2 linked regions of the Homo sapiens genome follow. The protein of the gene in region 1 interacts with the protein of each later gene in a pairwise test. Each region holds a gene or a part of one and is shown in the gene's direction. Other genes may lie near its edges.

Evidence for each region. Proteins that work in one complex are often made in the same cells at the same time.
Region 2: the proteins of ARPP19 (region 1) and SPDYC interact in binary tests that used the Homo sapiens proteins (3 or more experiments, as listed by UniProt).

What each region holds. Positions count from the first base shown.
Region 1 is NC_000015.10:52,552,016-52,559,038, reverse strand, and holds part of ARPP19 (cAMP-regulated phosphoprotein 19), read left to right. Parts: intron 1-1,816; coding exon 1,817-1,939; intron 1,940-6,934; coding exon 6,935-7,023. UniProt on the Homo sapiens protein: Protein phosphatase inhibitor that specifically inhibits protein phosphatase 2A (PP2A) during mitosis. Inhibition of PP2A is enhanced when ARPP19 is phosphorylated.
Region 2 is NC_000011.10:65,165,911-65,173,236, forward strand, and holds the start of SPDYC (speedy protein C), read left to right. Parts: upstream 1-4,322; 5' UTR 4,323-4,351; intron 4,352-5,416; 5' UTR 5,417-5,447; coding exon 5,448-5,589; intron 5,590-6,032; coding exon 6,033-6,091; intron 6,092-6,335; coding exon 6,336-6,421; intron 6,422-6,523; coding exon 6,524-6,695; intron 6,696-6,773; coding exon 6,774-7,104; intron 7,105-7,272; coding exon 7,273-7,307; 3' UTR 7,308-7,326. UniProt on the Homo sapiens protein: Promotes progression through the cell cycle via binding and activation of CDK1 and CDK2. Involved in the spindle-assembly checkpoint. Required for recruitment of MAD2L1, BUBR1 and BUB1 to kinetochores.

The sequences.
Region 1 (7,023 bases):
AAATGAAGAAGCAGTTCAGGATGAAATACTGATAATATATAAAGTGAATGAAGCTGATTATAAAACATGTATGAGAGCTGGATGTGGTGGTGCATGCCTATAATCCCAGCACATTGGGAGGCTGAGGTGAGAGGATAGCTTTGAGGCCAGGAGTTCAAGACCAGTTTGGGCAATATGGCCTGACCTGTAATTTTTTCCCCCCCGTGGGTACAAAGGGAAGGGAAACAGGATCTTCATCTTTTTTTTTTTTTTTTAATGTATGAATATAATTTTGAGTGAAATATATGCCAAAATTTTATGAAGTTTTTTTTTCTTTCAGTGCTTAGATAGATAAATGGTTTGCTTGCTATATAAGAACATAGGTTTGACATTTATGGATTTAACATTCCTGCTTTGACTATTCCTAAGTAACCTGGAAGGCTCAAGATAGGCAGAGGTATGTGATTTTGCTGATTTAATGTGCAGAAATGAGTCCATTACTTAGAAAATGTGCCTTGCCAGCTGCCCGGTTTATCTATCTCAGTACAGCTTTTTCTCTTTCTCTTTTTCTTTCTTTTTTTTTTTTTTTCTGTTTTGTTTTGAGACAAGTTCTCGCTAGACCTGGGTATGCACCCAGGCTAGAGTGCAGTGGTGTGATCATGACTCACTGCAGCCTCAACCTTCCATGCTTAAGCAGTCATTTTGCCTCAGCCTTTTGAGTAGCTGGAACCACAGACATGTACCATCATGCCCGGCTAATTTTTAAACTTTTTTACAAAGGTTGGGTTTTGTCCATATTGCCCAGGCTGGTCTCGAACTACTAGCTTCAAGCAATCCGCCCACAGCTCCCAAAGTGTTGGGATTACAGGAGTGAGCCACCGTGCCCAGTCTGTTTTTCTTGATTAATTCTTCTGCAGTACTTGCCATGAAGTAATAAACACTCCTTCCCTATTAAATATAGCACTTTGAAAGAAAGCAGACTAAATCAAGACTGTTGTTCAAAGTGAATAGATGGAAGAATTGATAGTTCTGTCAGGAAACAGGTTTTTGATATATTAAAGAATAGGATGTTTGACATGAACAGAGTTTGTCATTTTAAACATGGGGGAGAGTTAGGCAATGATATACATAGATGTGAGGATTGACAAAAATGATGTTTCTCTTCTTTAAAAATAACAGGATGGGCCAGGCATGGTGGGTCATGCCTGTAATCCTATGACTTTGGGAGGTCGAGGCAGGATTGTTTGAGCCCAGGAGTTCAAGACCAGCCTAGGCAATATAGCAAGACCCCATCTCTATTATTTAAAATAATAAAAATATTAAAAATTTATTATAAAAAAACAAATATCAGGATCATCTGTATTCAAGAAAAATGTACTGATAAGTAGGCTGCTGTTAATTTCTAGTAAAGAATCTAACTTCAAATCATACATAATTTTAGATAAATAGAAAAAATTCTGTATATTTTAACAGTATTAGGATGATTCTCTAAATATAGGCAAAGAACTGAAGAGTTCCATAGAAGGTGACTAACTATAAATGTATTATACATGACTGGAAAAGTAATGGCAAGCAAGACTTCAGAGCTGAGCTATCTTGATATTTTTATCCAGTGTGTGGGGTGTTACACATGCATCACAGCTATAATAGAGCTATCACATGGATCTTTTGAAAAACAAGATAGAGATGTTTTAAAGGCTTCTGGGTTTGATTTCTTAGTCAGATGCTGTGGTACTTGGCATTTAACAACTAGAATTCAGAATCCAGATTTTTAAAGGTGAATTATTTTAAATAACTGAGTTGTAATAGAGAAGTAATTTATTTGAAATTATTTTAGGAAATGGAAGATAAAGTGACTAGTCCAGAGAAAGCAGAAGAAGCAAAATTAAAAGCAAGATATCCTCATCTGGGACAAAAGCCTGGAGGTTCAGATTTCTTAAGGAAACGGTTGCAGAAAGGGGTAAGTTCTCATGGGTAATTTCCAAATACTTAAGCCCTACAAACTCAGTATGCTGACAGATTGTGAAACGGATATCTGTGCGTATAGCATTGTACTTTATCAGGTATGTACATATGTGTATATGTATCTGTAATGGGTTTTTCCAATATTTTGCAGTTTATAAATAAGCATTGTGAGAATCTACAACTCTTCAGCATTTTTAATAATAAACTATTTAAAGCATGTAGAAATAGTGCAGATATAACAGAACCCATATACCCCTTCCCAGATTTAATGTTTATATTTTGCCATGTTGGTTTCAGTTTTATCTTTCTTAAGAAAGAAAATGTTGTAGATACTGTTGAAACCCACCCTATATGTAAATATGAGCCCTTTCCCTTATCTCTCCAAAAGCAGCCACTATCCAGAAGCTGGTGTTTATCCTTCTGCCCATATTTTGAAACTTCCATATTTTTTGCAGGTGATTCCCACACAACATTCAAAAGCTTAAAATACTTATTTGGATGAAATGATCACTTAATAAATGCACAGCTATCTCCTTTATGTAATATGTTTCACAGTCAGATTTACTCTAATACAATTTAAACATTTTCATTTTCATAGTTCAAATTACTGAAGATATTATTTTCAAATTCTTGCCATGTTTTGCGAGGTAGATACCATTATTTCTCAATAATGAGATTGAGATAATGCTGGCCTGTTTGTTCCCTAAGTATTGTCCTGTGACCCCTTCCTTTGCTGTAAAAAATTAGAGAGTTCCATCTTCAGCTTAAGCATATTCAAATTACTTACTATACAGGGAAGGATGAAATACTACTTACGGAAGAGAATTGTTGAATGAGATGCTAAATCATGTTTCTCCTTAAATACATTCATATACTGATATCGGCTCCTTGCTTAAAACACGTCTGTGTGTGTATTAGCTCTAGGTACATATGGATTGTTTTAAAGTGGCAAAAAATAGAATGGTATTTTTAATCTTACATGAAAGAATAATATTCACAGCTTTGAAATACTAGGATGATGGAATAATGACACCAAATTTATGAAGATGTAAAACTCCCGTACCATGAAATATATAATCAAGTAGGGAAGTTATTACAAAAATGTTAGTTAATGTCTAAAATACATACAGAAACTTTTAAATATATGAAAGGGAACTTTTAAGTGTACAAGAAAAACACTTAAGGTGCTCCTGGATAAAGGATTTTAACAGGAAATATAAAAAACAGAGAAATGTTTATATATTATAGACATCAGTGAAATGCAAATTACATCATAGTATTTATATAACTAAATTGCAAAAATGTTTAAAATAATACCTATTGCTAAGGTTGAAGTTGAATGAAACTAATATGCTCTTTGTTGTGTTTAAACATTAAAAATTATTACTCGTTTCAGAACAGGGTATGGATTAAGGTTTATAAAAATGTTCTTCAAATCAATAATCTCTTATTTATTAATCTAAGAGTATAATTCAGTACAAGGAAAGTCTTCCAAGTTGGAAGGTCCTCCTTATAGCTTATAACTATAATTAGTAGCAGCACCACTATTCAACAGCAGAGAAATGATTAAATAAATTGAAGTAAGTCAATAAAATAGTATTATGTGGTTATTTTAGAACATAAAGATCATAATATAGGGGATAAATAGAAGAAGTAGAATGACAACTGTGTTTTTAGTTATGAGATAAATTATTTAATCTTTGGCTATTAAATTATTTTGATTTGATTATTGTTTAGGAAATATTTTCTTTGCTAATCTCCAGCATAACCTTGGCTAATAGGCTTTCTTCCAACATTGGGCCAATTGTCACTGTAATTTTTCTCTAGCTTGAACTATTTATTTTTAAGTATCTTCAAGTCAGATTTCATATACATTGTATCTTGGAGTTGGTGTTGTAGATATAAATAGTTGAGAATGAAGAAAATGCTACTGAATCAAGAAATAAGTAGATAGAATTTGAGAAGTGAGCTCTTTAATGATTCTGTATTATAACAGAATGTCAGTGAATAAGTTATTTTATATGAAGTTTTGATTTTTTTTAAAACTCTGGATCACAGGTTCTGGGTTTTAATTTTCCTCTATCACTAGTTAGCAAACTTGACAAATTACCTTAGCATCTTTAAGTAGCTTCTTAATTTGAGAAGGTTTGATTAGATATTATGATTATTATAATAGGTCTCTTCTTGTGTTGTACTCATTAATGTTATTATGAGGTTAATGTTATTATTAGGCTTTTAACAATATGACTGTGTACACATGACTACATAGATTATCAGAGCTGGGAGGGATATCAAGAAGCTGTGTGGCCTGTTTTTACATTTTTTATTTCTTTTTGCTTTTTGTTTTGTTTTTTCATATTTGTAGGGGTTGTGAAGTCCCTAGAAAACAGAGAATCCAGTTGTAAGAAACATGGCTTTAAAGTTGAACATTACCACTTTAGGTGATCACTTAGTGTCAGTGTAGTTGTAAATGCTGATGTAAGTATGGCCCATAAATTTGTGTGAGAGGAGGCTTTTATAAGATTGTCATCTAGATCATAATTAATTTTTAAATATTTTCATTACAAACTCATGAAATTTAGAGATTGTTAAAGACATATCATCATCGTTGTTATCTGTGGATCCCAATTTGATAAACATTAGTTCACTTCTCTATCTTAAAGCATTAGCTTCTTTCTCTGACATCTTTGTTGTTTTATTGTCTTTGCTGAATCTCTGCCTTTTGCAGTAACCTTTTCCTTTTTAGGGCAATTCTAATTGTCAGGCATTGATTTTAGTTTTATCTCTAGTCACACTAAATTTAATTCCTTTCCCCCAAGCAGAGTAGCCTAATCTACAGTTAATTGAGACCCCCTTGTGATGAACTTTTGCTTACTATAAAATTACTTACATTAGAAACTGCGTTTATTACATAGGGGGAAAATCTGCCTAAAATTTACATGTGTGTTAAATTTCTCAGTATGTGCTTCTGACAAAATAAGAAATTTGGCAGGCTGCTTTGTTCTCCTCTAGAGGCTACAAAATTCAGAAATAGCTTTTTAATATATTACAGTGCATCACAATTCTGAGGTTTTTCTGTCTGCTCATTTTAAAACATACAGAAGTGAAGCTGCAGAAAGCTTTAGATGGGCCTGTTCCAGGGTTCCTTGTTACTGTTCCGTATGGTACATATACAGTAATACATTAAAGCAGTTTCTGTCTTTAGGCCTTTGGGCCATAGACCAGGTCTGGCTTATCAAAAAGTGGTGGAGGAAAGCAGCCAATGAGACTTTTTCCTCAGGCCACTCAATAGTCTTATACTAAGCTGTGAGTTCCTAGCTATTTTGTTTTATCACATGAAGTATCCCTGAAGATATTAGCTTAAGATTCCATAAATATTATCTGTTTTCTTCCCCTTCACCCTTTGTCCAAGCCCTTGTTTCATACCTGGATTATTTCCTTTGCCAACCCAAGACTGAGATTAGAGCCCCCTTCTTTGAGCACCATATAGCACTGTGTGTGCTTAAGGCAGTATTGTAATTGTTGATTTACTTGACTATTGTCCCATCTTTGTATCTGACTCCAGCTCTCACATAGTGCCTCACATATAGCAGGCACTCAGTAAAGATGGGCTCAGCATGATAGGTGTAAGTTAGAACCCAGGCAAATTTATGTTTTTGCTCTGGAAGTCAAGTAGGTTAGTTGTATTAAGGTTGATGTTTAGCTCTCATCACAATTTGCATGTTAGTGGTAAAGGGCAGCTAAAAAAAAAGCAGTAGTCATACTTCATGTCTCTCTGTGAAAAATGGAGGAGGTGTGGAGTAGGGATATGCATTTTAAGTAATAATTTCTAGTGAGTTTATTTCTTTCATTACTCTAATATTTATATTTTTACCTTAATTTTTGGTAAACTGCTCTAGTTCAAATAAGTATGATTTAAATTCTTGCAGAAACACTTGTTCTAAATAACAGAATACCAGGAACTGTAAATAATAGTTTTAATAACTATAATTATGGGGGGGTTGGTTTTTTTGTTTTTGAGACAGAGTCTTGCTCTGTCGCCCAGGCTGGAGTGCAGTGGCACAATCTCAGCTCTCTGCAACCTCCACACCCCGGGTTCAAGCGATTCTCTTGTCTCAGCCTCCAGGGTAGCTGGGATTCCAGACACCTGCCACCACAACCGACTAATTTTTGTATTTTTAGTAGAGACGGGGTTTCACCATATTGGCCGTTCTGGTTTCAAACTCCTGACCTCTGACCTCAAGTGATCCACCCAACTCGGCCTCCCAAAGTGCTGGGATTACAGGCATGAGCCACCATGCCCAGCCAAATTATGTGTTTTATTTATAAAATAATTTAAGCAAGTGTTTCACCTGGTTGTTCCATTAGTAAATGAAAGATTTTATTTCACTGAGTCTGGGACTTCCCAAATAGCTTAATATTATATTAGTCTTGATGGTTCTTTATTAGAACCAGAATGGTTCAAGAAAGCCTGAAGGCAGGTTCTTTTTTTTTTTTTTTTTTTTTTTTTTGTGAGACAGTCTCTGTTGCCCAGGCTGGAGTGCAGTGGGGCAATCTTGGCTCACTGCAGCCTCCACCTCCCAGGTTCACATGACTCTTAAGCCTCAACCTCTGGAGTAGCTGGAGTTACAGATGTGCACCACCACACCCAGCTAATGTTTGTTTTTTGTTTTTTTTGTTTTTTTTTAGTAGAGACAGGGTTTCGCCATATTGGCCAGGCTGGCCTGGAACTCCTGACCTTAAGTGTTTCGCCTGCCTTGGCCTCCCAAAGTGTTGGGATTTCAAGAGTGAGCCACTGTGCCCAGTCTGAAGGGGGGCTTCTCGGCTGTTGACTTATGCTGGAACTCAGTACAGAGACTATTTCATCTAATTAATATTCCTGTTTAAATTCTTTTAGACCAACCTTATACGGACAGTATGGGGTTGCATCGACATCTTAAATCAGTAATTGCTAAGCTCTAATCTGAATTTTTTTTGTTTTTACTTATAGCAAAAATATTTTGATTCTGGGGATTACAACATGGCTAAAGCAAAAATGAAGAACAAGCAACTTCCTACTGCAGCTCCGGATAAGACGGA
Region 2 (7,326 bases), on another chromosome or scaffold:
TGATAGTTGCTCTCGACCAACCCCAGCCCGGATCGATACTCCTTTCTCCCCTCCTTCCCCAGCTTTTCTTGGCACAAAGCCTCGTGCCTGGGAGAGGCCGCAGCGCACGACGGCGTGCGGGGATATGGTCGCTTTCTTTTTATTTACATTTATCTTGAAGTTTGGACCTTCTCTGCTTTCAAGTTATGCCGACGCTGTGGTTTTGGCAGCGTTTTATTTTTCCTTTCTTGTTGTCTGGGGCTGTGTGGACAGCAAAAGTTGGCGGATGGGGACCCAGGCAGCCCCTTGGGCCTCAGGACCCGGAAGTCCCCCTGGCTGGCTTGTGACTTTTTAAGATGGAGTTCAGTTCATCAGCGTGACAGCTTTTCTTATTTTCTAACACGCGCGTTTGAGGTCATAAATTCCTCTCTAAGAATTACTAGTTGTGTCCTCCAACTTTGACAGACAATATTTTCTTTCTTTCTTTTTCTTTTTCTTTTTCTTTTTTTTTTTTTTTTTTTTTTTTTTTTTTTTTTTTGAGACGGAGTCTTGCTCTGTTACCCAGGCTGGAGCAGTGGCGCGACCTCCGCTCACTGCAACCTCCGCCTCCCGGGTTCACGCCATTCTCTTGCCTCACCCACCTGAGTAGTTGGGACTACAGGCGCCCGCCACCACGCCCGGCTTTTTGTATTTTCAGTAGAAACGGGGTTTCACTATGTTGGCCAGACTGGTCGCTAACTCCTGACCTTGTGATCCGCCTGCTTCGGCCTCCCAAAGTGCTGGGATTATCGGCGTGAGCCACCTCGCCCGGGTACATTTGATTAATTTTTAGGAAGATGTTCTGTGCGTGCTTTCCTGCCTTTGTTGGGTGCAGTGCCAGCTTATTCGTCCACTAGGTCAAATTTCTTCATCATATTCTTCATATCTTTTACTGCTTTGCTAACTTTTTTGCCTTGCATGTGCCATCATATCTACAATTATGATTGTGATTTGTTTTTCCGTGTGGTTCTGTTGATTTTACACACACACACACACAGACACACACACATGCGGTTTCTTGCTTATTGACTTTATTTTTAGGAGTAAACAAATTACTATATATTTTTTTCTTTACCTGGATTCTGGTTAGGTAATTATACACTTTTTTTTCTTCCTTCCTTCCCTCCCTCCCTTCTTTCTTTCTTCTCCTTCCTTTTTCCTTTTATTTTTCTCTTCCTGCCTCTTTCCTTTCCTTTATTTTCCCTCCCCTCCTTCCCCTCCTCTTCTTACCGACAGGATCTCCCTATGTTGCCCAGACCAGCACTACAGGTGCACACCACCACATCCGGCTGTATATTTTTAAAATCACTACATAAATTCTCTTTCTCCCTAGTTATGCTTTTTGTCCAAAGTTGTGTTTTTTTGTTTGTTTTTTGTTTTTTTTTTTTTTTGAGACAAGTTCTCACTCTGTCACCCAGGCTGGAGTGCAGTGGTACAATCTTGGCTCACCAAAACCTCTGCCTTCTAGGCTCAAGCGATTCTCCTGCCACAGCCTCCCAAGTAGCTGGGATTACAGGCATTCGCCACTACCACCCACCTAATTTTTGTATTTTTAGTAGAAATGGAATTTCACCATGTTGGCCAGGCTGGTCTTGAACTCCTGACCTCAAATGATCTACCTGCCTCGGCCTCCCAACGTGCTGGGATTACAGGCATAAGCCACCGCGCCCGGCCTAAAGTTGTTTTAATATATTAGTGTAGTTATCCCAGCTTTCTTTTAGTAATTGCATATTATTTTTTCTATCTTTATATTTTGAAATTTTTAATATTCTTATTTATTTATTTATTCATGTTTTAGAGACAGGGTCTTGCTGTGTCACCCAGGCTGGGTAGAATGGCATGATAATAGCTCACTGCAGCCTTGAACTCCTGGGCTCAAGTGATCCTCCCACCTCAGCCTCTTGAGTAGATAGGACTGCAGTCACGTGCCACCATGCCAGGCTAGTTTATTTTTGGTAGAGATGGGGCCTTGATGTATTGCCCAGGTTAGTCTCTAACTCCTGAACTCAAATGATCCTCCTGTCTCGGCCTCCAAAAAGTGCTGAGATTATAGGCGTGAGCCAATGGACCTGGCCATATATATATTTTTTGAGCTGGTAGTATGTTATTATGTTTTATGTGTATTCTTTTATATCCTTTTACGTGTATCCTTTATAGCATGCAATATTAATATATGATTTTACAAATTATATATACATTTACATGAATATAAATTTTATAAATAGTATATTAGTTAGCATAGAATAAATTTTGCTGTGATAATTGTAGCAGGCAGAATAATGGACTCCCAAAGATGGCTACATTTCACTTCCCAGACCTGAGAATATGTTATCTCACATGGCAAAAAAGACTTTGCAGATGGTTAAGGATCTTTTTTTGAGACCAAGTCTTGCTCTGTTGCCCAGACTGGAGTGCAATGGCATGATCTCAGCTCACTGCAACCTCCACCCCCAGGGCTCAAGCAATTCTCCTGCCTCAGCCTCCCGAGTAGTTAGGATTACAGGCATGCACCACCATGCCCCGCTAATTTTTGTATTTTTAGTAGAGGAGGGGTTTTGCCATGTTTACCAGGCTGGTCTTGAACTCCTGACCTCAGGTGATCTGCTCTCCTCTGCCTCCCACAATGCTGGGATTACAGGGGTAAGCCACCTCTCCCAGCCAAGTTAAGGATCTTGAGATGGGGAGATTATCTGGGCAGATTGAAGAGCCCAGTGAATCATGGGATTCTGAAAAGTGAAAGAGAAAGGCTGGGCATGGTGGCTCATGCCTGTAATCCCAGCATTCTGGGAGGCCAAGGCGGGTGGATCATGAGGTCAGGAGAACAAAACAAAACAAAAAAATTGCCAGGCATGGCGGCACATGCCTGTAGTCCCAGCTACTCGGGAGGCTGAGGCAGGAGAATTGCTTGAGCCCTGGAGGTGGAAGTTGCAGGGAGCCGGGATTGGGCCACTGCACTCCGGCCTGGGCAACACAGCGAGACTCCGTCTCAAAAAAAAAAAAAAAAAAAGTAAAAACAAATATTCTCCCCAGTGTGGGAGATCGGTGTCAGATCTCCAGGGGTGGCACTGAAGGAAATCAGCCTGAAGGCCCTCCCAAAGTTAAAGTGACTAGCCCACTCCCAGGCTTCTTTTTGGTACACCTTCCTGATCTCTAACCTTAATTACTGGGGGAGGAGGAGAACAGTTGAAAACACAGCTGGTCTAGGAGATTCATTCGGTTTCATGGAACACCTTCTCTGTGCAGGCAGCGTCCAGGAACAGCTGTAGACCACACAGCCAGGCTACCCAGCGTGTGGGCCCAGCAGCCAGGCTGGAACTCTATCTCTACTTACCAGCTGAGTGGCTGGCAGGAAGTTACTCAGCCTGTCGGTCAGCAACCCAAACTCTGTGTGTTAGTTGTTTGTTCGCTGACAAAATGAGGCTTCTCATCATTCTCATCAACTTCACGGGCTTGCTGTGAGGAACACGTGAGCTGATTCCATCACAGACTCCTCAGTAGGCAGCAGTAGGTGTTTAGTGAACGGGCTATGGATGCTGCCCCACTCACTACTTCCTTTCTAGGGGAGGCCGACTTCAAATGCGTGCACACACACAAACAGGATGGCCTGATGCAGACCAGCTGGTCTAGAAAGGCCTTCACGGCCTCAGGGAGCCTGGGAGGCGGCCTGGGGGAGACCATGAAACAGCAGATACACCAGAGACCAGAGATCAGAGAGAAAACAAAGGACCCAGAGATCCACAGACATCCAGACACCAGAGGCAACAAGAAACTGAGAGACTCAGAGGCCCACTGAGACCCAGGCAGCTTGTTCTGTGTTACGAGGGGAAAAATAAAATAAGAAACAAAAGAGAGACTCGGGGGGCCTCAGTGAAACCTAGAGACTCAAGGAGGCCAGGAGATTCAGAGACACCCATAGAGAGCCAGAGACCCTGCCCTAGCAAGGCACAATCAATGAAAAAAAACTCGCCCACCAGGCCCTCGCAGTCCGGGTCTCATATCCCGGCTCAGCACCTTGGCGCTGCATTTGTCAAGAGGGGAACAGGGATCCTAGCTCCCTGCCTGTCCTATGGGGCCTTAGGCCCTGGGGTCCAGCTGGCCTGCCTTCACCCCTCTTGTAGTTGATGAAGCTTTGGAGAGGCTTTCAAACCCTGGGGAGCCACAGCTGGGTGCCGACTGGACTCACTGGCAGAGAGGCAGGCGGTGAAGGCCAAGCCTCGCCCCCCAGGAAGGCCCTGATTGGTGGACGGGCTGCTTTGGGCAGGGCCGCCCTCAGGCTATATAAGCGCACTCGCGGCGGCGTTGGTGTTATGCTCTGGGCCATTCCTGAGCTCGGGTAAGGCTCGCTGCAGGAGGAGGCTGGGTTGCTTGCGGGCGCCTAGATGGAGGGGCCCAGATTGGCCCTGGGGTGGTCGACCGCACGTTCTCCTCGGCCCCGTGGTTGGCTTCTCTCTCTCAGGGATGAGGGTGGGTTTAGGACGGGAGCTTGAAATGTTTGAAGTGGCCCCATCAACTTGCTCTAAATCCAGGTATTTTTCTAATTTCATTCCTCCCTGAGGGCCTCAGTTTCCCCTCGGTGTAAGGGATCAGTGGCCCTTTCAACTCTGCTTTGGTGAGGGGTCGGGGGTGGTTGTGAGTTGGGGCCTAGAGGAGCAGTTAAACTCTTGGGTTTTTTTTTTCTTTTTTTTTGGCCAGGCGCAGTGGCTCACGCCTGCAATCCCAGCACTTTGGGAGGTCAGGAGTGTGAGACCAGCCTGGCCAACACGGTGAAACCCTGTCTCTACCAAAAAAATACAAAAAAAATTAGCCGGGCGTGGTGGCATGGCGCATGCCTGTAATCCCAGCTACTCGGGAGGCTCAGGCTGGAGAATCAGTTGAACCCGGGAGGCGGAGGTTGCAGTGAGCCGAGATCGCGCCACTGCACTCCAGTCTGGGCGACAGAGAGAGACTGTGTCTCAAAACAAACAAACAAAAACCAAAAAACCTCTTGGGGTTTTGGAGACCAAGGGCTTCACTTTTAACCGGCTGTTAGGCCTCAGCTTCAGTTTCCTCGTTTGACGACCGGTCTGAGTTAAACTTACCTCCTTACCAGGATGGAATAAGATAAGGCCCTTAAGCACAGCCCCAGGCACTTAGGAAGCCCTCAGCGGTGCTTGTTGCTGCTGTTACTCTGGCCTGTCCTGGGGTGCCAGGAGGAGGGTGAGGGTGCCACACCCTCACCTATAGCAACTCTTTGCTTCTTTTCTGGCCTCCCCACTCTTGTTGCATCCCGGCTGCCTTCTGTTCTGAGCCCCCAAGTCTCTGCACCCACCCCTCCACCGTCCTGGCCCCTGTCACCACCCTCTTGATTTGTGAGCATCACGGGGGTACATGCTAAGTCCTGAGCCTCCTTTCTCTACAGGTCACCCTGCCCCATCTCCATCTCCTATGAGATGAGTGACTCCCAAGACCCCACCACTTCCCCTGTAGTTACCACCCAGGTAGAGCTGGGGGGCTGCAGCCGGCAAGGTGGGGGCAATGGGTTCCTCCGTTTTCGCCAGCACCAGGAGGTCCAGGCCTTCCTCAGCCTTCTGGGTGAGTTTGGAGGGCTGGCACGGGAGGGGCCGTGAGGTCAAGTGTGAAAGCAGATGTGAAGTGTGGGGTCTCACCTGCCTGTACAGACATCTGAGACCTCTGACCCTCTCCCTCTCAGGTATCCCAGCTTAGGCAGGTGGGAGGGGTGTCCTCTCAGAAACTGGATTCAGGGCCAGGCACCGTGAGTCATACCTATAATCCCAACATTTTGGGAGGCTGAAATGGGAGTATCACTTCAGGCCAGGAGTTCAAGACCAGCCTGGTCAACATAGTGAGACTCCATTTCTATTTATATTAAGAAAGAGAGAGAGAAAGAGAAAAAGGGAGAAAAAGAGAAAGAGAGAGAGGGTTCAGTGGTGGCTTGGGCTTTGGAGCTTCTGATGCCACTCTTCTCCATGGAGGTGGTGGTAACCTGCGTCCTGTCATGTCTTCTCTACCCTCAGAGGACAGTTTTGTCCAGGAATTCCTCTCCAAAGACCCCTGCTTCCAGATTTCAGATAAGGTGAGGGAGTACAGGCTGGGGGTCTCTTGAGGGTCAGGTTGAGTTGGTGGGAATTGAGTGCCCTGGTCTGGTAGGGAGAGCCACTCACCTTCCATCCTTACCCCCTCATCTTTGCACACCACTTCCCACCATTTTACTGACTTTCTTTCCCTGCAGCAAAACCTCCCTGGGTGCAAATGAACCTGGGTGCAAGCCCCTCCTCCTCAGAGAATAACTAACCCCCCACCCCGATCTGTCTCTGCAGTATCTCCTGGCCATGGTGCTGGTCTACTTCCAGCGCGCCCACCTGAAGCTCAGCGAGTATACCCACAGCAGCCTGTTCTTGGCCCTGTGAGTGGTGGGGGCAGGCAGTGGAGGCATTTGCTGGAGGTGTCAGATGGGACAGGGCAGATGTGTGGCCTCTGCTCCCTGACCTTGTGCCTCTGTGGCTAGGTACCTTGCAAACGACATGGAGGAGGACCTGGAGGGCCCCAAATGTGAGATTTTTCCATGGGCCCTGGGAAAAGATTGGTGTTTACGAGTGGGGAAATTCCTGCACCAGAGGGATAAGCTTTGGGCACGGATGGGTTTCCGGGCTGTTGTGAGCCGCCAGTGCTGTGAGGAGGTGAGGCTGGGAGGCAACCTGGGGTGTGGGGAAGGCTGGGGTTCCCACCCCATTTACTGTCCACTCTGCTCCTCCCAGGTCATGGCAAAGGAGCCATTCCACTGGGCTTGGACTCGGGACCGGCGCCCCCACCATGGTGGGGTTCAGAGGGTCTGTCCACAGGTCCCTGTTCGCCTTCCCCGGGGCCCTGGCCTCTCGCCGCCCCACTGTTCCCCCTGTGGTTTGCCCCAGCACTGCAGCAGCCACTTGCTTAAGCCTGTGTCATCCAAGTGCCCTTCTCTGACCTCTGAATGTCATCGCCCTCCCTCCCAAAATTATCTCTCAAGGGTCAAAAACGCCTGGGGTGGGGACTTTCTCATCGTCTTGCCTCCCCAGATGCAACTGGAACCAGGCACCTACTCCCTCCGCAGTGAGTGCAGGATGGGACAGGAGCTGGGGGCTGGTGTGGGAGCTTGGGAGGCAGGAGTGAGGACCAACAATATGAGAGAGAGGGCCATGGGCCTGGGGTCGACGTGCTGCCCCTCCCGTGTGAGCTTGGCAGGTTTCTTCTCTGAGCCTCACTCTTTCCTCTCCCCAGTCTTCCCAAAGCCTCCGGCACGCCCTGGGCACTGAAGCTCTGCAGGGTGAAGAA